2 separate regions of the Homo sapiens genome follow, and region 2 is linked to region 1. Evidence: fine-mapped expression QTL. A gene starts in region 1. The other region holds a variant in brackets. All regions are shown on one strand. Distances are between the middles of the regions. Region 1 holds the start of TCF7L1 (transcription factor 7 like 1). Region 2 overlaps TCF7L1 (transcription factor 7 like 1).

Evidence for each region.
Region 2: its variant is fine-mapped to the expression of TCF7L1 in whole blood (TOPMed, PIP 0.98).

The regions. Positions count from the first base shown.
Region 1 is chr2:85,125,772-85,141,342 of GRCh38, reverse strand. It overlaps TCF7L1 (transcription factor 7 like 1), which reads right to left and starts at 7,951. Exons shown (of 12, transcript NM_031283.3): 1 at 7,410-7,951; 2 at 7,264-7,327; 3 at 6,893-7,020. The coding sequence starts at 7,658. RefSeq lists enhancers at 5,618-6,191, 6,192-6,766, 7,342-7,916 and a silencer at 8,282-8,351.
Region 2 is chr2:85,305,311-85,320,881 of GRCh38, reverse strand. It overlaps TCF7L1 (transcription factor 7 like 1), which reads right to left. Exons shown (of 12, transcript NM_031283.3): 8 at 15,479-15,571; 9 at 14,517-14,676; 10 at 14,323-14,430; 11 at 13,165-13,240; 12 at 10,495-11,853. The coding sequence ends at 11,420. It overlaps TGOLN2 (trans-golgi network protein 2), which reads left to right. Exons shown (of 4, transcript NM_006464.4): 4 at 1-2,855. Among named protein-coding and RNA genes, the nearest start is that of TGOLN2, 15 kb to the left of the region's middle. RefSeq lists enhancers at 6,997-7,497, 10,363-11,246, 14,169-14,669. The variant C/T (reference allele first, on the strand shown) is at 10,995.

The sequences.
Region 1 (15,571 bases):
TTAACACCACCACTTGCCTGGAACACTTCCCTCCATGGGCACCAGTAACTTCCTAATAGCTGAATTCCAAAAGCTCCTCTTATTTTTTATTTTTATTTATTTCTTAGAGACAGGGTCTCACTGTCTGTCACCCAAGCTGGGGTGCAGTGGCACAATCATAGTTCACTGTAGCCTTGAACTCCTGAGCTACCACCATGCCCGGACAAGTTTTAAAATTTTGTTAGAGATTGGGTCTTGCAATGTTGTACAGGCTGGTCTTGAACTTCTGGCCTCAAAATATCCTTCTGCCACAGCCTCCTGAGTAGCTGGGATTACAGGCACAAGCCACAGCATCTGGCTCAAAAGCTCCTCTTGACTCCTCGATCTTCTTGTCCCCTCTCTCTCTGTGGCATCTAACACCAAGGACACTCTCTTTTCTTTCTCTCTTCTGTCTCTCTCTCTCTTTCGCTCTTATTGCCCAGGCTGGATTCTTTCTTCCTTTCAGATGGAGTTTCACTCTTGTTGCCCAGGTTGGAGTGCAATGGTGCGATCTCAGCTCACTGCAACCTCTGCCTCCCAGGTTAAAGCAATTCTCCTGCCTCAGCCTCCCAAGTAGCTGGGATACAGGTGCCGCCTCCTGGGTTCAAGTGATTCTCCTACCTCAGCCTCCTGAGTACCCGGGATTACAGGCACCTGCCACCACGCCCAGCTGATTTCTGTATTTTTAGTAGAGACAGGGTTTCCACTGTGTTTGCCAGGCTGATCTCGAACTCCTGACCTCAGGTGATCCACCCGCCTTGACCTCCCAAAGAGCTGGGATTACAGACATGAGCCACTGCACCTGGCCTCCCACTTTCTTTCCCTCCAGCTTCCACCATGGAGGAAAAGAAAGGGGGAGGGGAGTCCCTAAGTGCTTCTCCTACCTTACCCAATGCTCCCTTCCATCCTCCTCCAACGACTTCTGTCCCTGCTCTAAGCATCCCTTCTCCTACTTCTATACCTCTCTTACATCAGCCAGTTTCAATCATCCCCTCAACATCCCCTCACACCTAACGTGTCTCCAATGAAACCGAGGGTTCCTCCCAATGAGAGCCTCTCATAGACTGTGTGGGCTCTGTCATCGCCAAAATATTCAGTAAGCATCTGTCCACCACTGGGGAGGTAGAGACTGGGGAGGCCTCCCCACCCACAGAAGTCAGTCTCCAGGTGCCTGAGCTTGGACACCAGGAATTAACTGTGACATCAGCCACTTTCTGGATCTGGTACCTCCCCTCCCCAAAGAGGTACAGACAAGAATCCTATTTCCTCCCATCCCACCTTTCCTTTCCACTCTGCTACTCTGAAGCCCTTTTCACCTCACCCCTGACTCCTGTGAGTCTAATTGCTCTATCCCCTTCCAGGTCCTCGTCCTCCAATCCACCATTATCTTTCTAGCCATGTGTACAAGTCACATCACTTCCCAGCCTAACTTCTGATGGTTCTCTGCTGCCTCTTAAATAAGATCAGATTCCTTCCATGGCATTCTAGGTCCCCTAGCCCATGTCCTGGCCCCTTCTCCTTCCAGGCAAATGGAACTGAAATAAGCTGCATTACCCCCAAATCGCCCTGAACTTTTCCTTCCTCCATGTCTTCACTCTCCTGGTCCTGGCTCCCACCTCAAGATGAGAGTGAAGGAAGACTTCCACTTTTTCACTCTAAATGCCTCCTCTTACTATTTACATTCTTCTAAATTAACAAGAATTACCTGGATTAAAGAATGACTGAGTTTTAAGGACCAGTTTAAACCTACTTCTTCGACCTGCCTTCTTGGATCACCCAGGAAGTAATTTTTCTCAATTTCTATTATGAAAATGCTTCTCCAGACTTTACTACCTCTTAACTTCTTATTACAGTGCTACCATGACTTCTTTCCTACTTAATTTTTAAATCCTTTAGGGCAAAGCCTGGGTCTTATCTTGTTTCCCATGGTCCCTTAGCCATTGCCCATGATAGGTATCCAATAGACTTCAGTTGAAGAAGTTTAAGAGTTAGGAATTAGTTTTAAGAGTGCAAATCTAGGCTGGGCGCAGTGGCTCACGCCTGTAATCCCAGCACTTTGGGAGGCCGAGACAGGTGGATCACGAGGTCAGGAGTTCGAGACCAGCCTGGCCAACATGGTGAAACCCTGTCTCTACTAAAAATACAAAAATTGGCTGGGCGTGGTGGCACGCACCTGTAATCCCAGCTACTCAGGAGGCTGAGGCAGGAGAATCACTTGAACCCAGGAGGTGGAGGTTGCAGTGAGCCAAGATCACACCACTACACTCCAGCCTGGGCGACAGAGTGAGACCCTGTCTAAAAAAAGAAAGAAAAGAAAAAAAAAAAGAAAAGTGTAAATCTAAATTTCCCTAGGTTGGCATGTAAAAGGTGTCTCTAAATTAGAATGTAAGTAGGGCCTTCCTATTATAGAAGATTTAAAAGATTTTCCAGCGAGTTAATCATTTATACTCTTTTTTATTTCCCAATTATTTTAGTAACACTGCACATCACTGTAAAGGCTGGAATACGCTGTTAGATTGGGTGGGGGTGTGTGTGTATGTTTTGCTTCCCTTTTCTTCAAGAATCCCTAAAAGTGTGATCAATGAAGAATGTGACCAAACTATAACCTTCCAAACTTATAACAAATCAAGTCAGCTATTCCCTGCCCAATCCACCCAACCAAAGAAAAAAGATTGACAGGTTCCCAGTCCTTCCCTACAGAGTTTGTCACCAATATCACCCCAGCAATCCAAGGGCGAAAACTTCAGCAACACAGGCCCTCTCAAAAGCTTGTTCCATGTGAAAAGCCCTCATTAAACTCTGAGTTATATTTAGAAAAAAAAATGAAACAGAAGTTATATTTAGATGAAATGGCTCAAAAGAATTTTACCAAAAGCAGCATGTTTATACTGATCTTCCAAAAGAAAAGGTTTCCTTAGCTTTTACATACAACTCCTAAAAACAGACAACTTCTTCATACATATACATACAAAGATTTCTGCTTGGGTTCCTTTGGGTCTGAAAGAACAGGAGCTCCCAGGATATGAGCAAGACTGCCCATGGGAAGCAGTGGGATATAAAGGACTTAAAAATGAGCACGCGTTTGAGGACCAGGACAATTTCATACACAAGCCTGAGATGAGATGGTCTGAGAAATAATAAAGCAAAGCCTTTCGTGTGCTTGTGCTGAACGAAAGAGGTTCTGTAATTTATAAGATGGACACAAAAACCACAGACTCCCTCAGCAATACTACCTAGAAGTGTTTCTTTCCAAAATGTCATCAGCCCTCACTTCATGGTCACAGTCAAATTACTTTCTATCACATTGTAGCTGGCTTGCTGAACCACATTCAACATTTTCTTTTTGGCTCTTCTTTGTCTTAAACCATTTTTGGCATTCACTTTCTAATGTGTTGACTTACATTTTCTTTCTTTCTTTTTTTTTTTTTTTTTGAGGCAGAGTCTCACTCTGTTGCCCAGACTGGAGTGAAGTGGCACAATCTCAGCTCATTGCAACCTCTGCCTCCCGGGTTTAAGAGATTCTCATGCCTCAGTCTCCAATGTAGCTGGAATTGCAGGTGCTCGCCAGCACGCCTGGCTAATTTTTGTATTTTTAGTACAGATGGGGTTTCACCATGTTGGCCAGGCTGGTCTCGAACTCCCGACCTCAGGTGATCCGCCCGCCTTGGCCTCCCAAAGTGCTGGGATTACAGGCCTAAGCCACCGCACCCAGCCAACTTACATTTTCCTAACAAAATTCTAGGCAACAGCCCCAAAGTAGTTTAGTAAACCGTGAAGCCTTTTCAGAAATGAATGTATAATTTTGAGGTGATTATTTGAAAAATGGTTTGTGGCAGTTATTCCTCTCTTCACAGGGTCCCAGGGCCTCCAGACAAGAAGCAATTGCAGCTCACAGAGACTTGGCCCACATCCCATGCTGAGGGGACCTCTTCTCTAAAGAGCCTCAGGAAAAAGCCACTTCCCAGCATCCCAGCCAAACCAGAGTGGAGGGCAAGGGTGATGGCTCATGGGGAGAGATGGCCAGACTGTAGGATGGGCCAGCCCCCAGTGGTCTCAGCAGGAATTATGCCAGTGGGTGAGGCTGCTGAAGCCTCCTGCCTGCTATTCCTAGGGTTCATTAACACCCTGAAAACAATCCAGACAATTCCCACTTCTGCATCTGGCTTGGTATTTCCAGAGGAAGTGTTAGAGCAGCAGATAACTGGGGTCACCTAATTTTATACTACCTCTAGGCCTTAGAGCAGCAAAGCCTAAAGTGGTGCAGTTTAGAGGCCAAACAATAAAAAAGACCTAAGATGTCAGAGAGATCGGATCATATATCCCAGGCACTTTCCTCCCTCCTCCCTCCCCACTCGTATCTATCCACATTCATTTTACCAGGCTGGGAAACCAACAGAGGGCCACTTTGTCTGTACCTACCATTTGCCTACAGTGACAATTATCTTAATTATATTAATAGAATCGTTCAGCAGAAAACCATCATCTCCACCCTATAGTCCAGACAACCAAGTGCTTAAGTGTTTCCTCACTTGCTTTACTTACTGGCAGCAAACGAACAGGGTCAAATTAGGTTTAACTGTGCTGACCTAAGGGCAGGACACTTCCCCAGTATATCCGTGAACTAACACAGCGAAAGGCACACAGAGACACAGAAACACTGGGAACTGAACTAACTTCTGTAAGGGCAAGTCACCAGGGAGACAAGATGTAGGTATGGGGGTGGGATGGGACATACTAAGTCCCCAAGAAAGTACATGTCCTAGGAGGCTTGAAAGGAGGCTGGTGCCTGGGCCAGGGCAGGGAACAACTGCAGAGATGAACAAGGACAGTCAGAGAGGCATGCAGAGACGAAAGGTTGGCTGCCTCAAGGAGGGGCTCCAAAATCCCACACGGGCCTGGATTTAGTAATCAGGAATCTCCAGGATCAGCAAGAATCAGCCTTTGGAAGTTCTTAGGCGAAAGAACACATAATGTGATAGAAGGAAGGAAGGAGGGGACACTAACAAAAATCTGTCTCACTTGGACTGTCAGAGAGAGCAGACAGCAGAGCCTGGATGAATCAAAATGCCCTAAAGAGAAATGGGTGCATGGAGAAATAGCCTTGAGGGAGCCATAGTCATATTTGATGGTGAAATAGTCATTTCTGGTGACTTTAACTGCATCAGGACTTGGCTGAGGGCTGATGCACAGATGCTAGTGCCTCCCAGACCCCTCTCTCTAGATATCCTAATAGTAAATGGAAACCTGAGACTTTAGCGGCATTAACTCTCCCCCATACGCAAAGTTACACGAATCCCAACAAAACTTGCAGAACTAAGCTACATGTGTGGGCACTGGTGGGAATCACTGAAAACCTAAATAAGACCGCAGCAGCTCGTTGATCCCCCCCCCCCTTTGATTGGCACGCACCTCTTTTCTTTTAATGAGAAAAAGCAACAGCCATAGACCCACATCCAGTTTTCACTGCAAAACTGACACTTACATTCAGGACTTCCTGGGGTGCTCCAGGCCAGCAGGGCCAAAGCTGCAAGACCTCCCTCCCTCTCGGGGCAAAACTGTGAGGTCTGTGTAGTCCCACTCCCCATTCCCCTCTCTCTCAGTCAGAGTCTCTTCCACCGCCCCCCGTCAATCCCCCTCCAACCCATCTGGTGATGGTAGCGCCCCCGCTGAACCAAATGTGGAGGACTTGGCTCTCCACCGACCGCTGTACAATGACAGCAGGAATGGCCATTCAGCACCTAGCCTTTCTCTAGCACCCTTTAATTATCGTCGTTATTTTAGGGCAGTCTTAGCATAAAGTGTGTTGCTGGGACCCTGCTCCTAAGAGGCTAACACTCCCTGCCCCCTTACCCACCGTCGACAGCGAAGTGGCAGGCAATGGGAATCTGGGCGGGAAGCAAAGAACTACTACGATTCACATCGCGCCCAAGCAGCAGCACGCGGGAACCTGGCACACAGTAGGTAGGCGTTCACCCAACATCTGTCATCGGACCCAGCACCTGGGCAGGGAGCCTAGGGGTGGAGTGGCGGCTTGGGGGACACAAAGGCCTCGCCAGCCCCCAGCTGCGCCCCTCGCAACGCGGGGGGCGGGAGTTTAGAGCCAGAGAGAGGGGGCGAAGGAATCCGCCCTCATTTGCACGTCGTCTGGGGCCCGGTCAATTTGCTTAATCACCGCTCTAAATGCCAGCGGGCAGCACACAATACGCGCCCATTAACAGGTTTAAAGTGTCGCAGCGCTCGCTTTAAATGAGAAAAGCAGGCGACAAAAGGGGGAAAAAGCCAAGTTCCTCAACTTGAAGAATGCCTTGGGTCGCCTCGAAATCATCTACGCGAGTTTAAAATTCGGAGCTAGCTCCGCAGAAAAGCTGAGGCCCCGGTGCGAGGGCTGGGGGTGGGAACGGGGGCTGTGAATAACCCGCCACGAAAACTGGGTTTCTTAGGAACCAGCCTGCAGCCGCCCAGTGAACCCGGAGTCGGAGGACAACGTCGCCAACCCAGCTCCCTAGGCCCCTTGCCCCACTGCCAGAGAAAGCTGACCGATTTCCAAGAAGGAAAGCGAGACCCCCCCAAAGCGGGCACAAATCCAAGTTTCCTTCGGTGCAGGCGAAGAATTCTGGAGGCCAAGGAAGATCCCAGAGGTGGACTCCAAAACCTCAACCCGCAAGAGGGGAAAAGTTAAAGTAACTTTACTTTCATCCAGGCACTGGCCAGCGCAGCCTCGCGCTCGGCCGCCAGAGAGTAGTTCAACTCCGCAAACAAGTTCTGCTTGGGATCGGCGCAGAAGGCCCCATCCCCCACTCCATGGCCAAGCCCGGGGGCGCATCCTGCGGGCCGCGGCCTCCCACCCTCCCCGGCGCGCCCGACGGGCACTCACGGTGCGCGCTCCTCCGGGAGACAGGGGTCCGTTGGAGAGGTACGGGCTGCTCAGGTCCGGGATCATCAGGAAGGGGTACCCAGGGTACGGGGGTCCTTTAAAGAACGCGCTGTCCTGAGGCCTTCTCACTGCGAACAAGACCAAGGCGAGGTGAGGCCCAGGCCCCCGGGACTGACAGCGCCGCGGCAGGGGGCTCGAGGCGGGAGCTGGGGACCCCAGCGCCCCCCACGCGCGCCCCACGGGGGCTGCCGCCAATAAAGGCGGAGGGCAAGGGTGCGTCCACCCAAGCAAGGGGGACGGTGGGCCGCCCGGGCTGAGCAGCGGAGCGCAGCGGGAATCGAGAGTGGGGGGCTGTCCCAGCGGGCACATACCTTCGGCGAAATAGTCCCGCGGCTTCTGGAAAGTGTCCCGGACGGGCTGCGGGCGCCTCTCCGCCTGCGGAGGAGACACAAAGGCAAGAGCGGGTGAGCGGACGCAGGGCCGGGATCCCCCGGGGGTGGCCGCGGTGCTTCCTTACCTCCGAGTCCGAGCTGCTGCTCTGGTTCTCCGACTCGTTGACCAGGGACGACTTGACCTCGTCTAGGTCCCGCTGCGCCGAGGCGCTATCGCTGCTCGGCTCCTGCTCCTCGCCCCCCTCGTCCTGGAAGGGGATCAGCTCGTCGTTCGCCCCGAGGTCGTCCCCTCCGCCGGCCGCCCCGGCGCTGGAGCCGCCGCCTCCCCCGCTGCCGCCGCCGCCGCCGCCGCCCCCGCCGCCGAGCTGGGGCATGGTGGGGCCGCGGGCCGGGGCCGCCGCTCTCGGAGCCCCTAGCCGCCCGCGCCCTGCCCGGCCCGGCCCGGCGCCCCTCCCGCCCGCTTGCGGGCCCGCTGCGCTAGCCGCCGCAACAAAGTTTGACAGGGCGTGGCCCCGCGGGAAGCGGGCCCGGCGCTGCCCGGCCGGGGCGCAGGCGGCTCGGCTCGGGCCCCTCCGGCAGCGCCGAGCCTAGGGCTCCCCAACTCGCCACCGCCGCCGCCTGCTCCGCCGGGGCGTCCCAGCCCCTGGCCCGCCGGGGAGGGGCGAGCGGGGAGGGAGGGAGGAGGGACCGCCGGGCTGGGCAGGGGGGCCGGAGGGAGGAGCCCCGGCTGCAAGCTGACACCCGCGCGCCTCGCGGAACCCGGAGAGCTGCGGTGCGCGCGCACACACACACATACACACGCACTCACACTCACACGTTCACACTCGCATCTTCCAGGGGCTGCGTCTCCCTGCAACGTGCACCGCCCCCAACCCCCTCCTGCGCCTCACACTGCACCCTCGGCGGCCCTCCCCACGGCCTCCCTGGAGTCCTGGAAGTCTTGCGCCCACCCCTCCGCATCCCCTAACTTTCTCCCAAAGAACCTCCAGAACTCCGCGCAGGTTCCCACCCCCTCCCACCGTATCGGCGCGCGGGCGGGCGGCACTGCCCCCTGCGGGAAAGCCTCGGACGCACATACTGGCCGCGGGGCCCTCCCCCTGCCTAGAGTCCCTCCGAGTGCGCGAGCTGATGCACGGACTAGGACACTGGGGACATCTATGGAACCCCGGAAAATGCCCGGCGGCTTTCCGCGCCTTTTTCCTGTGGGGTTCCAACGCGACCCCCGGCCCAGGTTTTCAACCTTGTACAGATATACAGATTTCCCTGCTGAAATCTTGAAGATCACCTTTTCTTCATTGTTTGGGACTAGGTCCTAAATCGAAAAATCGCGGTCTTGGGTTCCAAAAGAATTTGGATTTGGTTCATTGAGAGGGAAAATTGCCTGTCCAGTGATCTCCGAAGCCATTCACAAAGCTGCGTGAGTAGCCAGTGAACACGAGAAAAATGCTCAACCAGCCTCATACCTAAGTAATGCCTGTGGTGCGAGCGCCACGGCCCGCGCCTGGAGTTCCATCTACTCCCGAGGCCTAGGCAGGAGGATCGCTGGAGCCCAGGAGTTTGAGACCAGCCTGGGCAACATAGCAAGACCTTGTCTCCAAAAAAAAAATTTTTTTAATAAAGAAATGCCTGTTACAATGACATTAAGATGTCGTTTCTCTCCAACCTGTGCGGGAAAGTTTGAGGAAAATGAATATCTTGTGTTATCCTCCGTGGGGAACTATTAGAGCATAAACTTTGAAAACAGCTTGGAAGGCAGTATGGAACTATGTAAAACTATTTTCAGCCCAACTGGCAGAAGAGTTTCTACAGAGGTGCCCGCACATATGGGCAAAGCCACATATGCTAGGTTCAAAGCATCAGAGAGCTTGGTGACATGCATTCTTCATCTTTCTTTACAGTGACAGTCCATGCAGCTGGCCAGTTCTATGCAGTGTCCCCGCCCCTCCCCCCACCCATACACACACACACACACACACACACACACACACACACACACACACACACAGGCACATGGACCAAGATTGATTTTGGAGGAACATCTTTAAATGAAACACTATATATGACACTCACTATTTTATTTTTGTTTTTAAAAAAATTATACACATTTATTTCTGCGTAGAAAAAAATCTGAGAAGATGCAAATTATTATCAATGACTATTTCTGGGAAAGGATAAGTGAAAGGAGATAGTTTTCTGGTTTCTATGAACTTTATAACAAGCAGATATGCCTTTTCTAATTTTTTACACAATACATGAGTACAGTCTCATAAAGCGTTTTCAAATAACAGATGTATCTTGAGCAGTATCGAGTAACAAGTAAAAGTTCCTCTTTCCCCCTCAGGACACAGGACCCTTCTAATTAACCACTTTCAGTTAACTGCCTCTGGTTAACCACTGTCACTAGTTTGGTATATATCCTTCCAGACACTTTCCTAGGCAGTTATGAACATATGTAAACGTATTTACAGATATTCTGATGTACATACATAGAATCATACTCTTTGTATTATTGTGTGTTATTTTATTTTTATAAGATTTAAAAGTCAGACGATTTTTCATGTTTATGGTCCATAAATATATGAAAAACCTATTGTACTAGTTTTCTGCTGCTACTGTCACAAATCACGAAAACTTGGTGGCTTAAAACAACAGAAGTTTATCCTCTCATAGTTGTGGAAGACAGAAGTCCACTGTCAGTTTCACTGAGTAGAAATGGAGGTGTTGACGGGGCCATGCTCCCTCTGGAGGCTCCGAAAAGAATCTACCCTTGTCTCTTGCAGCTTCTGGGGGCTTGTGACCACATCACTCCCACCCTTGCGTCTGTAATCACATTGCCTTCTCCTTTTTTTGTCTGTGACAAATTTTCCTCTGCCCCCTTCTTGTAAGAAACCATACTTGTGGCCGGGCACAGTGGCTCACGCCTGTAATCCCAGCTCTTTGGGAAACCAAGGCAGGTGGATCACGAGGTCAGGAGTTCCAGACCAGCCTGGCCAACATGGTGAAACCCTGTCTCTACCAAAAATACAAAAAATTGGCCAGGTGTGGTGGCAGGCGCCTGTAATCCCCGCTACTTGGGAGGCTGAGGCAGGAGAATCGCTTGAATTTGGAGGGAGGAGGTTGCAGTGAGCTGAGATGGCACCACTGCACTCCGGCCTTGGCGACAGAGTGAGACTCTGTCTCAAAAAAAAAAAAAAAAAAAAAAAAGTGATACTTGTGATAGCATTTAAGGACCACCTGGATAACCTGTCCATGTCAAAATCCTTAACTTCATATCTGCAAAGACCTCTTTTCCTTAAACATTCACAGTTTCCAGGGATTAGGTCATAGATGCAGCTTTGGGAGTAAGCCATTATCAGCCTGCCACACCTATAAACCAGAAATGCAAACGGAAACAGCATTGAGATAACCAGTTTTCATCTGTCAGATTGGCAAAGGAAGAAAAGAATGGTAACACCCAGCATTGGCCCCTATACTAAGAAGCACATAGATGCTGGGCCATTGTGTAACAGTTCTAAAGAGAAGTTTGGTAATACCTGTGAAATACCTTTAAAAGTGTGAACCCTTTGACTTATCCACGTACTTCTAGGATTTTATCTGAAGGAAACAACTAGGTACAAAAATAAACCTGTAGAAGTGTGTTCATCACAGTGAAAAAATCTAGAAACAATTTCAATGTCCCCTATAGGGAATTATTAAGTTAAATCATGGTGCATTCATCTAATGGAATGTTATGACATTGTGGAGATATATTTGTCAATATAGAAGGAGGCTCATAATGGTAAGCAAAAGTAGCAAATTAAAATTAACATGTAGACTTCCACTTCCCATTCTAATGGGGTATTGATGTCAGATTGACTCCTTCATCAAGAACAACTAACTATAAACTGGATAAAATACCAAAATAAAACAACAAAACCCAGCTGAGTTGAAGGCATCACTGTCAACCAAGTCAGCCAGGACGTGAGGAGTCAAAATACCAGAAGGGAAATTCATTCAAGCGAGTTTGTATTCACTGCTGTTTCATCCCCTCAGAGAATTTGGTGATTTGTAGCACCAGGCATAGAGGCCAAACCAAAAACAACCATCTAGAGCAGCATACTACAGCTTGCTGCCTGTTTTTGAATGGTCTCAGCTAAGACTTTTTTTTTTTACTTTTTTTTTTTTTTTTTTGAGACGGAGTTTCACTCTTGTTGCCCAGACTGGAGTGCAATGGTGCCATCTCGGCTCACTGCAACCTCCACCTCCCGAGTTCAAGCAATTTTCCTGCTTCAGCCTCCTGAGTAGCTGGGAATGTAGGCATGCACCACCACGCCCGGCTAATTTTGTATTTTTAGTAGAGACGGGGTTTCTCCATGTTGACCAGGCTGGTCTCGAATTCCTGACCTCAGGTGATCCGCCCAAGTGCTGGTTTTACAGGTGTGAGCCACGTCGCCCGGCCGCTTTTTTTACATTTTTAAGTGGTTGAAAAAGATCATAAGGGCCAGGCGCAGTGGCTCACGGCTGTAATCCCAGCACTTTGGGAGGCCGAGGCGGGTGGATCACCTGAGGTCAGAAATTCAAGACCATCCTGGTCAACACGGTGAAACCCCGTCTCTACTAAAAATACAAAAAATTAGCCGGTCGTGGTGGCGGGCGCCTGTAATCCCAGCTACTCAGGAGGCTGAGGCAGGAGAATGGCGTGAACCCGGGAGACGGAGCTTGCAGTGAGCCGAGATCGTGCCACTGCACTCCAGCCTGGGCGACAGAGCGAGACTCCGTTTCAAAAAAAAAAAAAAAAAAAAAATTAGCCAGGCGTGGTAGCAGATGCCTGTAACCCGGGAGGCGGAGGTTGCAGTGAGCCGAGATCGCGCCGTTGCGCTCCAGCCTGGGCAACAAGAGCGAAATTTTGTCCCAAAAAATAAAAATAAAAATAAGGATAATATTTATGACACATGAAAATTATATGAAATTCAAATATCAGTGTTGATAAAGTTTTATTGGAACATAGCCATACTCCTTAGCCTATACATTGCCAATGGCTGCTTTCACAAAACAATGATGGAGTTTAGGACATGTATTGCTTAATGATAGGGATACATTCTGAGAAATAGGCAATTTCATTGCTCTGTGAACATATGGAGTATACACAAACCTAGGTGGTATAGCCTACTACACACCTAGAGTATATGGTATAGCCTGTTTCTCCTAGGTTACAAACCTGTTCACCATGTTACTGTACTGAATACTGCAGGTAACTGTAATACATTGGTACGTGTGTATCCAAACATATGTAAAGATAGAAAAGGCACAGTAAAAATATAGTATTACAATTTTATGGGACCCTATCATGTATGTGATCCCTCATTGACCAAAACTTTGTTATATGGTGCCTGACTGTAGTTGCAACAGGGACAGTATATGCTCTTATCACTTCATACTGCTGCTCAGTACACCACAAATCACGGTGATACAGTGTTTTCAGTGCCATGCATATCTCTGTACTGCGACATTTATTTTAAATTTTTATTACCAGGGCATATCCATTATGTCAAAACAAGAAAAGAAAAGTAGATGTATTCATCCGTTGCCACACTACTATAAAGAAGTACCTGAGACTGGGTAATTTATGAAGAAAAGAGGTTTAATTGACTCACAGTTCCACAGGCTTAACAGGAAGCATGACTGGAAAGCCTCAGGAAACTTACAGTCATGGCAGAAGGTGAAGGGGAAGCAAGCGACTTCTTCACATGGTGGCAGGAGAGAGAGACAGAGAGGAAGCGCTACACATTTTCAAACAACCAGATCTCGTAAGAACTCTACCATGAGAACAGCAAGAAAGAAGGTCCCCCTGCCCCGTGATTCAGTCACCTCCACGAGGCCCCTCCTTCAACTCATGGGGATTACAATGCAACATGAGATTTGGATGGAGACACAGAGCCAAACCATATCAGTAGACTATGAATTTTGTGCTTTGAAGGCACAGTGAAGTATGGATTATTTTATTAGCAAATTAGGTGACAAAGCGTTGTGTTTAGTATGCAACAACAGCAGTTATGCTAAGAGAACATATGTCAACATCACGAGAGTAAGCACTCATCAACAATTTTCCCAACTGAGAGGAAAGGAATGACCAGAAAAATTTAAAAATTGAAATCAAGCGGGGCGCGGTGGCTCACGCCTGTAATCCCAGCACTTTGGGAGGCTGAGGCAGGTGGATTGCCTGAGGTCAGGAGTTCGAGACCAGCCTGGCCAAGATAGTGAAACCCTGTCTCTACTAAAAATACAAAAAATTAGCTGGGCATGGTGGCGGGCACCTGTAATCCCAGCTACTAGGGAGGCTGAGGCAGGAGAATCGCTTGAACCCAGGAGGCGGAGGTTGCAGTGAGCCAAGATCACACCATTGTACTCCACCCTAGGCAACAAGAGCGAAACTCCATCTCAAAAAAAAATTGAAATCAGAATATCTAATCACAGCAAAATTTCTTCACAAAGTAAGTGTCCTAGAGGCTCATTTGTTAGTAAAGCAAGGAGAGCTATTAACTGATGGTGACTTAATTAAATTGTACTCAAGAGCAGTAGCCACAGAAATATGTCCAGAGAAAATAAACTTGCCTTTCACCATTGCTAAAAGAGTTTAGGACATTGAAAATAACATCAATAGTCAATGGGGATTGGGTGCAGTGGCTCACCTGTAATCCCAGCACTTTGGGAGGCCGAGGCAGGCAGATCACCTGAGGTCAGGAGTTTGAGACCAGCCTGGCCAACATGGCAAAACCTTATCTCTACTAAAAATACAAAAATTAGCCGGATGTGGTGGCGCACACTTGCAATCTGAACTACTCAGGAGGCTGAGGCAGGATAACTGCTTGAACCCGGAAGGTGGAGGTTGCAGTGAGCTGAGATTGTGCCACTGCACTCCAGCCTGGGCGACAGAGCGAGACTCCATCTCAAAAATAAATAAAATAAAATAAAATACATGACAACAATAGGACAAAAGGCAGAGGGGGGATATGGCATTGAACCAAACTAAGGTTGTCTGAGAAGTCGTGAAAGTAGGAATTTAAAGTACACTCTAGTAGGCCAGGCGTGGTGGCCCATGCCTGTAATCCCAGCACTTTGGAAGGCTGAGGGTGGTGGATCACTTGAGGTCAGGAGTTTGAGACCAGCCTGGCCAACATGTCGAAACCCCGTATCTACTAAAAATACAAAAATTAACTGGGCATGGTGGCGCACACCTGTAATCTCAGTTGCTAGGAGGGCTGGAGCAGGAGAATTGCTTGAACCCAGAAGGCAGAGGTTGCAGTGAGCCGAGATTGTGTCACTGCACTCCAGCCTGGGAGAGAGAACAAGACTCTGTCTCAATAAATAAATAAATAAATAAGGTGCACTCTAGTAAGTCAAGAATGCATGTGTTCATCCCTAGAATAACACTCACTGAATAATTAAAGAATGTATAACTGGCTGGGTGTGGTGGCTCACACGTGTAATCCCAGCACTTTGGGTGGCCTAGGCAGGTGGTCAGAAGTTCGAGACCAGCCTGATCAACACGGTGAAACCCCTTCTCTATTAAAAATACAAAAATTAGCCAGGCATGGTGGCACACACCTGTGGTCCCAGCTATCTGGGAGGCTGAGGTAGGAGAATCACTTGAACCCAGGAGGCAGAGGTTGCAGTGAGCCGAGATTGTGCCACTGCATTCCAGCCTGGGTGACAGAGGGAGGCTTTGTCTCAAAAAAAAAAAAAAAAAGAAAAGAATATTACTAACAAACTAATGAGCAAGAAAGAAGAAAGGAGACAAAAATTAAAGAACAAATGAGACAAATAAAAATATATTAAAATGATACAGTCAAAATTTCAGTAATTATTTTAAATGTATATGATCTAAACACTCCAAATTTAAAGACAAGATTTTTAGAGTATATTTTTAAAAAGCAGCTATCTGCTGCTTACAAAAGCTACACCCTTGAGGTGATGACAAATCAGGTTGAAAGTAAAAAGAGGGAGAAGGATAAACATAAAAAATGCTAACCTAAAGAAAGCTGATTAGCTGGGCACGGTGGCTCATGCCTGTAATCCTAGCACTTTGGGAGGTTAAGGCGGGCAGATCACGAGGTCAAGAGATCGAGACCCTCCTGGCCAATATGGTGAAACCCTGTCTCTACTAAAAATACAAAAATTAGCTGGGTGTGTTGGCATGCGCCTGTAGTCCCAGCTACTCGGGAGGCGGAGGCAGGAGAATCACTTGAACTCAGGAGGCAGAGGTTGCAGTGAGACAAGATCGTGCCACTGCACTCCAGCCTGGCGACAG
Region 2 (15,571 bases), 180 kb before region 1:
CCAAATCCATGGCTTTTTCTCAAAGCTTAGTCTTGTCCTTGGCAGAACTGGACACTATTGACCATCCAAATGGAAATTCCCCTTTCTTGGTGTCTCTGACAAATGGTCCTTTGCCTTATCTTGTGCTGGTGGTGAAGAGGCCCTCAAAGCCAGGCCTCTCTATTCCTTTGACTGTCTCCTCAGCCATTAACCCATTCTTCATCCTCGGAGTGAGTGATTCCCAAGTCTTTGTCTTGGCTTAATCCCTAAAGAACCCAGTTCTGCTGGTATCGAATAGTTCAGCTTGGTTGTCATTGAAAGGAATTTCTCTCTTCTGTCCATCAGCCTGTCCCTCCCAACTGTCTAGGACAGTCTTCGGTCACCTAAATTCCTAACTGCAGACTTTTGCCCTTTTTCTCTCTCATCACCAAAGTCCCATCCATTTTTTTTTAATAAAAGATCCTCAGCTACAGTCTTTCCATTTTCCTTGCTTCTCTTATTGCACACCCCCAGCCCATTTTGCTTCTCTCTTGGATTTTGTTTTTTCAGATCCACATTTATTGGGTTTCCTGTCCAGCTTCTTGGAAAGGAGCTCACTCTTGGAAAGACTGATCTTTCCAAAATATTTTCCCTGGTCTGAAGCTTTGGTGTGAACTTCTCAAGGCTTAGAGAATCCAGTTACAGACCTTTTGGGGTTCAGGATGCTATAGATTGACACCCTCCTGCCTGTTTTTCTCTGCATCCCAACCTGGCCAAGGCCCCTCCTGTGGGGTGCCCATCTGTGCCTTTATTCCGGCTGTGCCCTCGACTTTCCAGCTTCCCATGTTTCTTTGGTTAGGTTTCTCTCCCTTCCTTCTTTCTCCTTCCCCAATCCGCCTGTTTCGTCAGGGCCCAGTTTGTTTCCTCATACACCTTCCTCACTACCCCACCCCACATGGTTGACTCTTTCCCTCAGCTCCACCAGCTCTTCATCATGCCACTCATTTCAGAACTTGAGCAAAACAGGGCAGTCAGGATCTGATGTCTTTCTGGTCTCCCTAAGAAAACTAAGCTCTTGAGGGACAGCCCTTGGCAATGCTTTCCTATCTGCTGATCATGGTGACCTTCCTTAGGACTTCCAGAGTTCAGTTCCTTCTGGCAGAGAGGTTTTCTTTCTCCATGCCATATGGATGTGACTCAAATGAGGGGTCCCACAGCTTTTCCTGGCTACCACTTGCTGTGACCTTATACATGTTGGGGTTTGCTCTTAAAGAGGAGAGCAGGAAGAAAGGTTGGTTTCAGAAACCAAGAGGGTCGGCAGTGGACGCGTACATTTTGTCACGGAGTCCACAGAGCTGAGCTTTTGAGCAGACTCTGAGAAGTATCATTGCTTGTGTTGAAAGAATACAACAGGATTTAAGTTTCTCTTTAGAAATTGCACTGAAGAAAGGCCGGGCGCGGTGGCTCCCCCTGTAATCCCAGCGCTTTGGGAGGCCGAGGCGGGGGGATCACGAGGTCAAGAGATCGAGACCATCCTGGCCAACATGGTGAAACCCCGTCTCTAATAAAAATACAAAAATTAGCCGGGCATGGTGACGTGCACCTGTAGTCCCAGCTACTAGATAGGCTGAGGCAGGAGAATTGCTTGAATCCGGGAGGCGGAGGTTGCAGTGAGCCGAGATCGTGCCACTGAACTCCAACCTGCCAATAGAGCGAGACTCCGTCTCAAAAAAAAAAAAAAAAAAGAAAGAAATAGCATTGAAGAAAATACCGCACATCAGAGGAAAGCTTATTTTCTGCATGGTGTCTTTTCAAAGATAGAATATTTGAAGCATGTTTTCTAGCGATTGTGTGGATGAGGGTGAGCTGGCTGAGGCATCGCTCAAGCTGGGGGGTGGTGTGTAAGAAGCACGTGGAGCCACAAGAGGCACCTCCTATAGTCAGCTAAGGGCTTCCCTTTCTGCGCCCAGCTTTTGGGTGAAGGGTGATTTCTATTAGACACATCTGTGCTTCAGTCATAGATGTTAATAGAGGAAGCAGTTTTCCTGCTGCAGATTCCTGAATAGAGTTGCTGAAAGAGTCTACTTCTGGACTCAGGGGAAGTTGAAGGCCAGTCTGTGTAGAAAGGCTGAGGCAACGGGGAAAGACCTGACAGCTAGTTACATACGCTCTGACATAGTACTCCCATGATGGCTTCCAGTGACACATGTGCTGATAGAATTCTAAACCTCTGGAATTTCCCTGCTGGCGACTTCTATGGCCGTTGACTGTACAGGGTAACCTGATGCCAGATGCTATGGGCGTGATGAGAACTAGAGCATTGCAGCATGGAGGAAACTGTGAGGCACCAGATCCTGTGCTTCTGCAGGCCATTTTCTGAAAACCCCTGTTAGGAAGGTTGGATTTGGCGTGACTTGCTTGAGCAAGAGTCCTGGGGAGAGATTTTGAGGTTTAATTTAACGGTATATCCAGAGCTAACAGTGACTCAACTCGTCTAGTTCTGCAAGTCAGATGTACACTTAGAGTCTCTCTGTGAAGGGTTTGGGTCTGAGCTGTATAGTATGTCAAACTGCCAGTAAGCCAGCCCCTCACCCTCTGATAGATATTCCTTTAATGCACCAGACTTCATGTTTGATAAATGATTAATGGTTGAAATTGTTTCTCTTCTTTTGTGTTTTCCCAGTTAATAGATGGTCACTGTTTCCACAATGTTTTATACTTTCAGCTTTTTGTAACTTAACTATAATTACTTAATTTTATTTTTTTAAAGCTTGTTGTGGTCTAATGAGAAGTATTTTTCAGTGCATAATGTTTTTCTGAGCTTCTGTAAATGCCATCCCAATGTGGTTTGGTTTTGTTGAACAGAAACCAAAATAAATTTCAAAATGTTAAAGCAATGGATTTAATACATTTATTTATTTATTTATTTTATTTTATTTTTGAGACAGAGTCTTGCTCTGTCACCAGGCTGGAGTGCAGTGGTATGATCTTGGCTCACTGCAACCTCCGCCTCCCAGGTTCAAGCGATTCTCCTGCCTCAGCCTCCCGAGTAGCTGGGACTACAGGTGCGTGCCACCACGCCCAGCTAATTTTTGCATTTTTAGTGGAGACGGGGTTTCACCATGTTGGCCAGGATGGTCTCAATCTCTTCTTCGTGATCCGCCCACTTTGGCCTCCCAAAGTGCTGGGATTACAGGTGTAAGCCACCACGCTCGGCCAATAAATTTATTAATATTATATTAAGATGAACTCCAATAAGACCTTTGGCATGTCAGTTTAACATAAGTGAAAGGTCCTTTTTATGCCTTTTGAGCCTTCCTTCACCTTCCATCCAACACACACATGTACCAGTAAATTGCAGATGCCATTTCTGGGCTTTGCACACTTTCTCTGGCTTTCCATGTTCTGCTCCTGACCAACTCTCTTGCCACCTGACTCCTCCCAGCCTGGCTGCCTGCTTTCAGTAGCTGGGCCATTGCTGGGAACACTCTGTTGCCTCCCTGTGCTGTCCTCTGCTGTGCCATTGTGTGGAATGCCCTGCAGCCTGCCTCAACACAATGAAGTAATCTTACCAGTCGATGCCCTGACTCCTGACGTCACCCTTCCCTGCCCTGTGTCACCTTTCCCTGCATATTTGGAGGATAAGGCTTGATTGAGGCTCGGGTACCGAGCTCCCTGAAGGTGCCTTGATGCTGGCACATCGAGAACCAGATGCCACCCCGATGATAAGGAAGACAGACCCGGGACTTCCATATGAATTGGGTATGATCGTCTGACATGCACCCTACTAACTGATGGATCCTGCTGTTACCCCAAAGCTCCAGAACCACACTGGCCAGACACAGGCATTTCCTGTCCCCTGAAGAGCCACTGAACCCAGCACAAAAGAGATCTAGAGCTCTCCAAACCTATGGAATGGCAACCAAAACCATGCCCAGGTTTTGAGTTAAGCCTCATTAGTCTCCCTTTTCCCTTGACAGTGTAGAACTGTGCAGCGTAGCACTAAGTGAATGAGAGCAGAAGCCTCAGGACAGAACTGAACCCACCAGCTTGAGCTGACAACACTGCCAGGGGTTCTGTCCACAGATGGAATATTCGCTTTGATCACTGAGTTAGGAGGCATGGGTGAGGGATGCAGAGCGCCGCTCGTCATGAGACATCAAGCTATCCAAGTCAATATCCTATTAGTAGGGATGGCATATTATAGAAGGTGGAAAGATCTCACCTGCCCCAGCTGGAAACAGTGATTCCATTGCCCCAGATTCGGAATTGTGATTTAAACTAGGCCTCTCTTCAGGCATCAGAACCAAATAAGAGTGGTTTATATGTGCAAGGAACTAATGCCCCAGCTATTGGGCAAATTCCTCTGACTCCTCCCTGATGGAACTAATTCTTCTGTGCCCAGATCCTAGAGACAAGATCCTTAAGGTCTGAGTACAAGTTCCACTTCAGGATGGCGCTGCTGCACAGCAGGGCACCTTGCAGGGCCCCTACCAGTCCACAGGTGAAGATACCCTGGCCTAGGAGGCAAGAGCAGAGGCCCCTGAGTGTGCACCCAGGCAGGCCCAGGGGAGGGTGGGGCCTTGGTGCTCTTCCCTCCACATGAGGGCCACCCAGAGCTGGCTCCAATCAGACAGGGGCCACAGCCTGCCCAGGCAGCCCTGCTCAGGGGATGGGAGGCTGCAGGGGACAGCAGGGCCTGAGGGCAGGAACAGAGGACGTTGGGCGACAGGGGCCCAGGGTCTCAGGTCCTGACAACATGGGGCAGTGAGTATACCTGTCAGAGGTTGGTGATGGGGCTCTGGGCCTTCAAGGCCATCACACGAGGGTGCAGGCGGCCCAGGTCATGGTCAGCCCTGTAGCAGACACCTCGGGGAGCAGCCAGAACTGGTTGGTGAGTGGGGATCCTGCAGTCACACTCTCCACCTGAGGGCAGAAAGGGTGGGGCAGGCATGTGAGATCCTGGCTCCCCTCCCTCTTCCACTCTTTCCCATTCACTGACTCCGGGGTTGGGTGCCCTGTCCTTCCCTGGGGCTCATGTCTTGGGGCCCAATTCCCCTGTCTCAAGGAAAGGGCAGAAATAGCACCATGAGGTCCGTCACCACCCCAAATACTTTACCCCCTACCTTCCCCTCCAGCTGTGGGAACAGTTTCAGGACCACTGACATAGAGGCTTCCACAAAGAAGTTTTTGAAGGTCTCATAGTCACTGCCCTACTTTCCCTTCAGTTCCACCTGCCACTCCTCAAACCACTCGTAGGTGCTGGGTATGAGCATGATCATGGTGGACCGGCCTGGGGATCAGAGCTGATATTACTACTGCCCGGCCCCTCCCTCCACCCCCTCACCCAGGACGTGCAGCCCCCCGTGGGAATCGGTCCTCCCAGGTCGGATCCTTGGCTGATGGGAAAGCGAAGAAGAGAAGAGGGATGTGTTCCGCAGCCTCTTCCCTGGGCATGGAGATGTAGCGCTCCATCCTGCGTGTGACAAGAGTGTGGTGCGATCTCCAGGCTTTTGTCCTCAAAACCCCAGAACCACTGCAAGGACTGCTCGTCCCTAGGGACTCCCCACAGGGGTGAAGCTGAGCCACAGCCTTGGTGTGACAAACTTCCAGGTGCAAATTGGAAATTGCCTACTTCCTCCCATTCCATAACTTCTGCTCGTTCTCTGAGTCAAGCAGGGAGGCACGGGCCACACACACACGTGCACCTTACGCCTGGTCCATGTCCGTGTCATAGTAAACATAGTAGTTGGTGGACGGCAGATGCAGGTCCTCCTTGGTGCCTCGCAGGCAGATGAAAACAGAGGTCATGCCTAAGCCGGGCTGAACTGTCCCCAGCTGCTGCTTCACACCTGCAAAGGGGAGTGGTTGGTGCCTTTGTGGACCATGGCCGGAGACAGCCACTCCCTGCTCCCAGGAGAGCCTCAGGGTGACCGCTCGCTGTGTCCTGAGCCTTATCTTCAGTTGCCAGCTTTGTGCCCAGGCCACTTTTACAGCTGTTTCAACTTGATGTTGGCAGGGGCCTGCTCTTCTGTGTCCTCCTGCCTGGGAAGGACACTGCCCCAGGTTCCTATTCTTCCACCTCCCCTGCCTCTGCTCCAAGCCCCTTCAGAGGCAGGTAAAGCCCAGCCCTGGTCCTCAGCCCCCATGAGCTGGCTCAGCACCTGCAGGAAGGTCAAGCTTACTGCCTCCCATCTTCCCCTTCGTGTCTTGAAGTGTGGAGCACATGACTGGGTTCCCCCCATGAAGACCACACATGAACAGCAGCTCATTACCAGCCTGATTTCAGGATGAACTTTTATGCAGTCACGGAGTGAGTGAACATGCATGATTCTTAGTGTGACATCAGAACACAAGGCCTCCAGAGGGATGCCAATGCATGTGAGCAAAGGCAGGCAGCCTGACTGGTACTTGGCATCTCAGGACTCAGCTGGAGGGAGGAGGGAAGAACTACACTATGGCAGAGGCCACAGCCACTGTGGGGCACCTGATGTTCCCCAGACCTAAACAGCTGGGCTTCCCCACTCCTCAGCAGATGACCTGAGACCGGTGTTCCGGAAACTGCCCCCACAGATTCTTCTGCTGTCTTCCCATTCCCGTGCCAGAGGGATGCCGGGTCCCTGGCTCCTCTGCTTTTTCCATTTTTTAAAAAATTTATTTATTTTTAGATGGAGTCTTGCTCCGTCGCCCAGGCTGGCATGCAGTTGCGCGATCTCTGTTCACTGCAACCGCCTCCCGTGCTCAAGCGATTCTCCTGCCTCAGCCTCCCAAGTAGCTGGGATTACAGGCATGTACCACCACACCCACTAATGTTTGTATTTTCGGTAGAGATGGGGTTTCACCACGTTGGCCAGGCTATTTTCAAACTCCTGACCTCAAGTGATCTGCCTGCCTCGTCCTCCCAAAGTGCTGGGATTGAAGGCGTGAGTCACCGTGCCCGGCCTGCTTCGTTCATGTAACTAAATATTTGTGAGGCCCTCAGGTTGTGTTCAGGAGGAAGAGACACAGGAACACAGATGGAGGGCAAGAGGGACAGATGGCTCTAGCTGGGCTGCCTGGGTGAGATGCTGGGGCCTGGCCAGGACAGTGTCAGTTCCCAGAGGTCCTGGGACAGGGGAGAAGGGAGGTCAGGGTCACAGAGAGAGAGGCAGGAAGTAGCAAAGGCAGAGTCTGCCTGTGCACCAAGCCCGACCCCCCTGCTCTGCCCCTGGGCCGTCTCTACCTCACCCCCTCAGCTCCCCCGGTCTGAGAGAGGGGAGGCCGAGCAGGCTGCAGACCCAGCCACATGGGGCAGGGGAAGGAGAGGCTGGCATTGGTGGAGCCACCCACTGCACTGCCAGTCATACAAAGAAGTCTATCACACAGAATTATGTGCAGTATTTTTTTTTTTTGAGACAGAGTTTTGATCTTGTCTCTCAGGCTGGGTTGCAATGGCACAATCTCGGCTCACTGCAACCTCCACCTCCTGGCTTCAAGCGATTCTCTGGCCTCAGCCTCCCGAGTAGCTGGGACTACAGGCGGCCGCCACCATGCCCGGGTAAGTTTTGTATTTTTAGTAGAGAGGTTTCACCATGTTGGCCAGGCTGGTCTCGAACTCCTGACCTCAGGTGATCTGCCCGTCTCGGCCTCCCAATGTGTTGGGATTACAGGCGTGAACCACCGCGCCTGGCCTATAGTACTTTTTAATGAACGAAATGACTATGTTACTGGTTTATGTATTTGCTATATTTTTATTGTTTTAAACAAAAAAGTTTAAGAAGTAAAAAAAAAAATGTTTTTGTTTTTGTTTTCTTTGAGAGGGAGTCTCGCATTGCTGCCCAGGCTGGAGTACAGTGGCATGATCTCAGCTCACTGCAACCTCCGCCTCCCGGGTTCAAGAGATTCTCCTGCCTCAACCTCCCTAGTAGCTGGGATTACAGGCGCCCGCCACCGTGTCCGGCTAATTTTTATATTTTTAGTAGAGTTGGGGTTTTGAGGTCATGGTCTCAAACTCTTGATCTCAAGTGATCTGCCCACCTTGGCCTCCCAAAATGCTGAGATTAGCAGGCATAAGCTACTGCACCCAGCCCCAAAAAAGACTTTAATTAGAAAAAAGCTCATAGAATAAGGATATAAAGAAAATATCTTTGTGCAGCTGTACAGTGTATTTGCGTTTTAAGCTAAGTGTTATTACAAGAGTCAAAAAGTGTTTAAGTTGATAAAGTAAAAAAGTTAAACTAAGGTTAATTTATTCTTGAAGAAAGAAGAATATTTCTTTATAAACCTAGTGTTGCCTAAGTGTACAGCGTCATGGTTACTCACCACTCACTGACGCACCCAGAGCAGCTGCCAGTCCTGCAAGCTCCATGCCTGGGAAATGCCCTATACAGCTATGCCATCTTTTATCTTGTTTTTTGTTTTTTTTTTCCCCAAGACAGAATTTTGATCTTGTTGCCCAGGCTGGAGTGCAACGGTGCGATCTCGGCTCACCGCAACCTCTGCCTCCTGGGTTCAAGCAATTCTCCTGCCTCAGCCACCTGAGTAGCTGGGATTACAGGCGCCCACCACCACGCCCAGTTACTTTTTGTATTTTTAGTAGAGACGGGGTTTCATCATGTTGGCCAGGCTGGTCGCTAACTCCTGACCTCAGGTGATCCACCCTGCTCGGCCTCCCAAAGTGCTGGGATTACAGGCTTGAGCCACTGCACCCGGCCCATCTTTTATCTTTTACACCAGATTTTACTGCACCTTTTCTATGTTTTGTTTCTGTTTTTTTTGAGAAAGAGTCTCACTCTGTCGCCCAGGGTGGAGTGCAGTGGTGCGCTTTCGGCTTACTGCAAACTCTGCCTCCCGGGTTCAAGTGATTCTTGTGCCTCAGCCTCCTAAGTAGCTGGGATTACAGGCATGTGCCACACACCTGGCTAATTTTTGTATTTTTAGTAGAGATGGGGTTTCAACATGTTGGCCAGGTTGGTCTCGAACTCCTGACCTCAAGTGATCCACCTGCCTGACCTCAAGTGATCCACCTGCCTCGGCCTCCCAAAGTGCTGGGATTACAGGCGTGAGCCACCACGCCCAGCCACCTTTTCTATGTTTAGATACATAAACACTCACCACTGTGTCACAGTCACCTACAGTATTCAGTACAGTAGCATATGCTGTACAGGCTTGTAGCCTAGGAGCAATAGGCTATACCATATAGCCTAGGTGTGTACACCATCTAGGTTTTTCTAACTACACTCTATGATGTTCACACAATAAAATTGCCCAACGACGCATTTGTGAGAACGTTGTCTCAGTTGCTAAGCGATGCATGACTGTATATGAAATGTCTAGAATAGACAAGTTTGGAGACAGAAAGTAGATTAGTGGTTGCCTAGGGCTGGGGGAGATGGGCAAAATGTGGAGTGATTTTCAAAGGATATGGGGCTTCCTTTGGGACTGACAAAAACTTTCTAAAATTGACTGGTGATAGGTGCACAACTCTGAACATACAGCCAATGAATTGTCTACTTTTTTTTCTTTTCTGAGATGAAGTTTTGCTCTGTTGCCCAGGCTGGAGTGCAATGGCGCTGTCTCGGCTCACTGCAACCTCCACCTCCCGGGTTTAAGCGATTCTCCTGTCTCAGCCTCCCAAGTAGCTGGGATTACAGGTGCGCACCATCATGCCTGGCTAATTTTTGTATTTTTAGTAGAGACGGGGTTTCGCCATGTTGGCCAGGCTGGTCTCGAACTCCTGACCTCAGGTGATCCACCCGCCTCGGCCTCCCAAAGTGCTAGGATTACAGGTGTGAGCCATCGCACCCAGCCTGAATTGTATACCTTTTTTGTTTGAGGCAGAGTCTTACTCTGTTGAGAAGGCTGGAATGCAGTGGCACAATCATAACTCACTGCAGTCTTGAGCTCCTGAGCTCAAGCAATCCTCCTGCCTCAGCCTCCTGAGAAGCTGGGACTACAGGCTTGTGTGCCACCATCCCCAGCTAGTTGCTTTTTTTTTTTTTTTTAAAGAGATCAGGTCTTGCTATGTTGCCCAGGCTAGTCCTGAACTCCTGGCCTCAAGTCATCTTCCTGCCTCAGCCTCTCAAAGCATTGGGATTATAGGCAAGAGCGGCTCTGCCCAGCTGAACTGTATACTTTAAATGGGTGAAGTGTAACTTTAAATGGCTGAAGTATATCTCCATAAAGCTGTTACAAAAAATTAATTGTGGTGCTAGATACTATGGAAAGTATCCAAAAGATGCTTCCTCACATCTTGGCAATTACGAGTCAAATGGGTGATAGAAGCATAAGCTGAATGTCATTCCAGGCGGCAAATTCATTTAAATCAGCTGTGAAAATGATTACCCCCTTTGCAGCTCAGTCATGGACACTGACTGGCCCATGCACATTTGAGACAGGAAGCTGGGTTCAGGTTTTCTAAGGGTGTCAGGCATGCCTAACATTCCCCTGTGGCAAGTGGCAATCTTCCTTTGCATATCTGCGAAAGTCTAACACAGGGTTTGGGAGTGAAACAAACAGGTGGTTTGATTCAACAAAAGCACTAAAGAAACACTCAGAAAAGGTCTTGCAACTGCAATTTTATTTTCTTTTGTGAAAATAAACAACTGGGAGTTTAAATTGCTCCAAAAACCATAAAAACAAAAAGAAATACACACAGAAGAAGCATGTGAGGTGATGGGGAAGGGAACAGGGTCTCTAGAACTTTGGCAGATTGTGCTGGCACGGACCCAGGTGACAGGAGCCAGACCATGGGGCCGGTCCCGCCTGCCACTCTGGGATTGTGAAGGGATGATCGCCACTGGCAAGGACGGGGAGGAACACAGACTTCTTCGCTGAGGAAGTGGCAGGCACCTTGAGTCCCTTTAAATGCGGGGGTTGGGAGGAAACCATTTCAGAGGACCGCTTTCTCCACTGAAAGCTGGGGCTGGCGAGTTCGGGCCCACTGAGGGAGGGGACGCTGGTGGCAGCAAATCAGGCCAAGATGTCTTCTCACATGGTGATGGCCTCACACTGGGCAGAGGACAGAGGACGAAGAAGAACCCACGGTATTGAGCAGA[C/T]GATGAAAACTTGGGCTGGGTAACAGGAAATGTCACAATGGCAGAGCTGCAGATGGAGTCGGGGAAGCTGGGGCAGGCGGCAGGGGCGAGAAGAGACAGGAGACAGAAAGTGCAAGAGAGGTAAGAGAGAGAAGTGCCCTCTGCCCAGGTCCATCCACCACAGCACCTACAGGACGAATAGCACGCTACTTTTCAGTTCTCTTTCTTATAAAGATTTTTTTTTGTTGTTTTGTTTTGTTTTTTAAAAAAGCCTTAAGATCAGCTACTGGTTACATCTACAAACTGTAAAGTGCTGTTGTTACCAGCCACTTTACAGAACAGTCCAGAGTGGTCAAATATTGACCAATAAAGTCTCCTTTTTCTTTTTCTTCTGAATCATTACTACTCAATGAGTCATGTGACAGCCTGCAGGGGTCGGGGGGAGCTTAGTGGGCAGACTTGGTGACCAGGGAAAGAGGCTGGGCCTGTAGCACCGGGAGGGCCTGGTGGGCATGGAGCGTGGCGGGGAAGGACGGGGGAGAGGCCAGCAGAGCTGTGGGCATGGACCCAAGGGGGAGGGGCCGGGACAGGAGGGGAGGCTGGCTGCCCATCTGCCCAGAGGAGGAGGCTGCAGCCTTAGCCGACAGGAAGGCGGCAGAGTGGAGAGCCAGCTGGGCCCGGGTTTCTGGTTTGGTGGTGAGGGAGAGGGGCTGGGCTTGCTCCGAATGGGTGGCAGCAGGGGCAGCTGGTGAGGCCAAAGCTGCAGAGGGAGTGGCCGGGGAGTCCAGCATGCTCCCGTGGGAGGAGGCAGGGCTGTCACAGGGCTTCTCGGGGGGCAGGTACTGAACACATGGCTTCTTGCTCTTGGAGGCCAGGGCACCTAGGGGGAAAATACAAGAAAGAGTGAGCAGCTATAGCTCTGTGAGAGGAGGAGGCTGAGGAACAGCCCTGGCGATACATGTGCTTTGGAGACACAGGGATGATTTTGGCGAGGACCTGACATTACTTCCAAGGCTTTCAAGACTAGGAAACTGCATTCACAAATACCCAGAGCACAGAGAAGAGGCAACGCCCAAACTGATGAAGATCCACCCAGCATCAGATCGGAGAGAAGACGGCTCAGTGTCTCACAGGACCACCCTCCTTTCCTAAAGCTGGTAACTTTTGGGATGAATCTCCAGTTTGCTTTGAAATCTTTGGTTTATGGTATTAATACAGTCAGAGAGAGTGCATGCCTGCTGAACAGCGTGCCAGACAGCGGGTTCTGTAGCAGGTACGGGTTCCACTCATGTGCGCTCCTATGTATAATGGAAGGAAGGAAGGAAGGGAGGAGGGGAGGCAAGGAAATAGGGAGGGAGGGAAGGAGAAAGGGAGGGCGGAAGGAGAAAGCGAGGGAAGAAGAAAGGGAGGGGGGGAAGGGAGGGAAGGAGGGGGAGAGGGAGGGAAAGAGAGGGAGGGAAAGAGAAAGGGAGGGAGAAAAGGAGGGAGGGAAGGGGAAAGGGAGGGAAGGAGAATGGGAGGGAAGGTGAAAGGGAGGGAGGAAGAAAGGGAGGGAGGGAGGAATGAAGAAGAGAGATTGAAAGCACTTTACATCGTGCAAGCAGCGATACACTTGTCCTGGAGTGAGCATGAGATGGGGGGCGTGACCTAAATATTAATAATAATCGTCACAGTGTGAGCATCTTTCTGTGCTAGGCATGATTCTGGTAATATAGAGATTTTATACATGGTTTTGACACAAAGTGCCTCCTAAACCCAAGCAAACTAATTTTTTCTGGTGTTCAACCAAAGAAACATCCAAGGAAACCCGGGCTCCCCTGGATCCACTGACAGGTGGGATGTCAGGGGCTCATGTGCTGCCTTCCTAAGGGTATTTCAAAGACAATTTCAACCTCATTCCATTAACCCTCAGGTAGGATGATTCACTTTTCAATGGAATTAGATTGTCTAGGCTTTGAAGTGACAAAGTCCTGGGATCAAATCCTACCACCACCACTGAAGCAGAGTGCCTGGGAAAATGCCTTCACATCTCAGAGCCTCTTAAGTGGCCACCTCGAGAAAGGGGTAATAATACCCGCCCGCGAATACCGAGGCAGAAGCCCTGACCCATCAGGGAGCTAGAGACAGCATGGGCAGGTGTGGCTGTGACAAAAGGAAAAGCAGGAGAAGAGGCCAGTGCCCCGAGACGCACCCTCTGCCTCCTGGACTTGCTGCTGTGACTGTGTCTGGGACAGCTGCTTTTCTCTCTTCCTCTTCTTTTTCTTACCCTGGAAAATACAGCCAAAGGAAGAGGTAAGCTGGGAGAGAAGAATGCTGGCTTCTCAGGGGCTCCCAGATCAGAGAGAAGACAGGACGTTGCCCTTTACTGCTCTCGATCCCTCAGGGAGAGTGTGGAGAGATAATTCAGATCACAGCCGTGGGAGCCCGTGAGGAGGCAGAGGGAGCCCTTCCTCCCCTACAAACGCGTTTCCCCTCCAGGTCGGGTGTCCAGGCCTTCTTGGAAGGCCTCCTCCCTCCACTGCCCTTCAGACTCTGTTTTTCTGTTTCTCTCCCTAGAACAGTGCTTCTAGATCTTTTCTGAGGGGTCCCAGGTCCCTTTGAAAGTTTGATGCAACTGTGGGTCCTCTTACCAGAAAAAAAGCAAAGAAGAACACGCATGCGAAAATTGGCTTGGTTTCCGGGAGCTTAGAGACACGCCCCCTGAGGCTCACACACTGGTCTTTGAGCCCTGGGTTAGGAGTGGCTGGAGACAACTCTTCCTACCACAGCTAACCCCGTGCCCTGTGTTATGAAATCGAGGGCAGAGTCCAGTTCAAAGGGAAATGCATCAACTGAAGTCCGTCCTCAGGACTTGTTGACCTCCTGAGAATTAAAACACCTTCCTTATTTCTAGAGAAGTATGGGCTTCTCCCTGATCTTAAGAGTCCTCTATAAATGCAGTCGCTGGCCGGGCGCGGTGGCTCACGCCTGTAATCCCAGCGCTTTGGGAGGCCGAGGTGGGCGGATCACGAGGTCAGGAGCTCGAGACCATCCTGGTTAACACAGTGAAACCCCGTCTCTACTAAAAATACAAAAAATTAGCCGGGTGTGGTGGCAGGTGCCTGTAGTCCCAGCTACTCGGGAGGCTGAGACAGGAGAATGGTGTGAACCGGGGAGGCGGAGCTTGCAGTGAGCCGAGATCGCGCCACTGCATGCACTCCAGCCTGGGTGACAGGGTGAGCCTCTGTCTCAAAAAATAAAAGAAAATAAAATAAATAAAAATAAATGCAGTTGCTTTCCTTCACCCTTCCTCCTCTTGCAGAGGCTGTTCCTGGGGTCTGAGCGTCCTCTGCCCAGAGTGTGCACTTACATAGTTGTCCCGGGCTGACCAGGTTGGGTAGAGCTGCGAGTGAAGCTGCCGCTCCTTCCGGGCCAGCTCGTAGTACTTGGCCTGTTCTTCTCGAGACAGGTTGTGCCACTGGGGGAGAGAGGGTCAGAGACCACACGGAGCCATCAATGCAGGGACGCTGCCTCCCTGGCCTGGAGGGAGAGGGCAGGTCTTACCTTTCTTCCAAGGATCTGGTTAATGGCTGCACTTTCCTTCAGGGTGCACTCAGCCACCACCTTGGCCCTCATCTCCTTCATATACAACATGAAGGCATTCAGAGGCTTCTTCACGTGGGGCTTCTTTTCCTCCTCCTTTTTCACGGTGACTGGTGATTTCCTGGGAAGGCACGTGGTTGTAGGTTAGCATGTCAGGTGTCACACAACTCATCAATCCCCACCTGTCACTGAAACACCGCTGATTGTCTCTGGGGAGGGGCGCGGGCTGCCTGGATGCTAATTCAAGTGGCCCCATGGCTGCACTCAACACCTGAGTACCTTCCTCCCGTAGTTTCCCACCTTTGAACGATCTCCACGCCAGATTCTTTGAAAATCTACTCTCCAATTTCCTGACAGAGGAACAGAGCATGGTGGGGTTGCTGAGATGAGCTCTCACTGGAGCTGGCAGGTGCTGGCGGCGGTGACAGGACACAGTGTGGGGCACTCTGGGCAGAACCAAGTTGGGAGGGGGTTCTCTTGGGATCTCCAGGGAGCACTGACTTTGGCTTCCTGCCATCTTTATGGTACACGGGCAAGGTAAGGACCCTGGTGCTCATCTCAGCTCGGCCACCAGCCCACCACAAGTCCTTAAGAAAACACTGTCTCCTTTCTGGGCCTCACCTTTTCATATATCTTACGGTGGGGTGTTAAAAGCTTTCTCAGGTTCTCTTTCAGCCTCTGAGACCTGACAGTAAAACTTTCCTTAATAAGAGAGAAGATGCACCATGTCCCTGAAAGGACAGGGACCCAGAAGGTCAGAGGGAGTAAGTCCCGAGGAAGAGGGAGGGCCTGGCTGGGGAGGCTGTGATGCCTGCTGAGTGACACCAAGAGAGAAGAGTACATGACATTTGCTGCTCAGAGTGTGGCCACCCCTCCCCACAGCCTGCACCCTCCCACCTGAATCCAGGCTGCCGCTTACTTACACGCTCACTGCAGGGCTCAGGCTGGGGGGTGCCGGTTCCTGCTTGACGATGGGGGAGACGATGGCAGGGTGGGGGATCCCTGAGGTGGGCAGG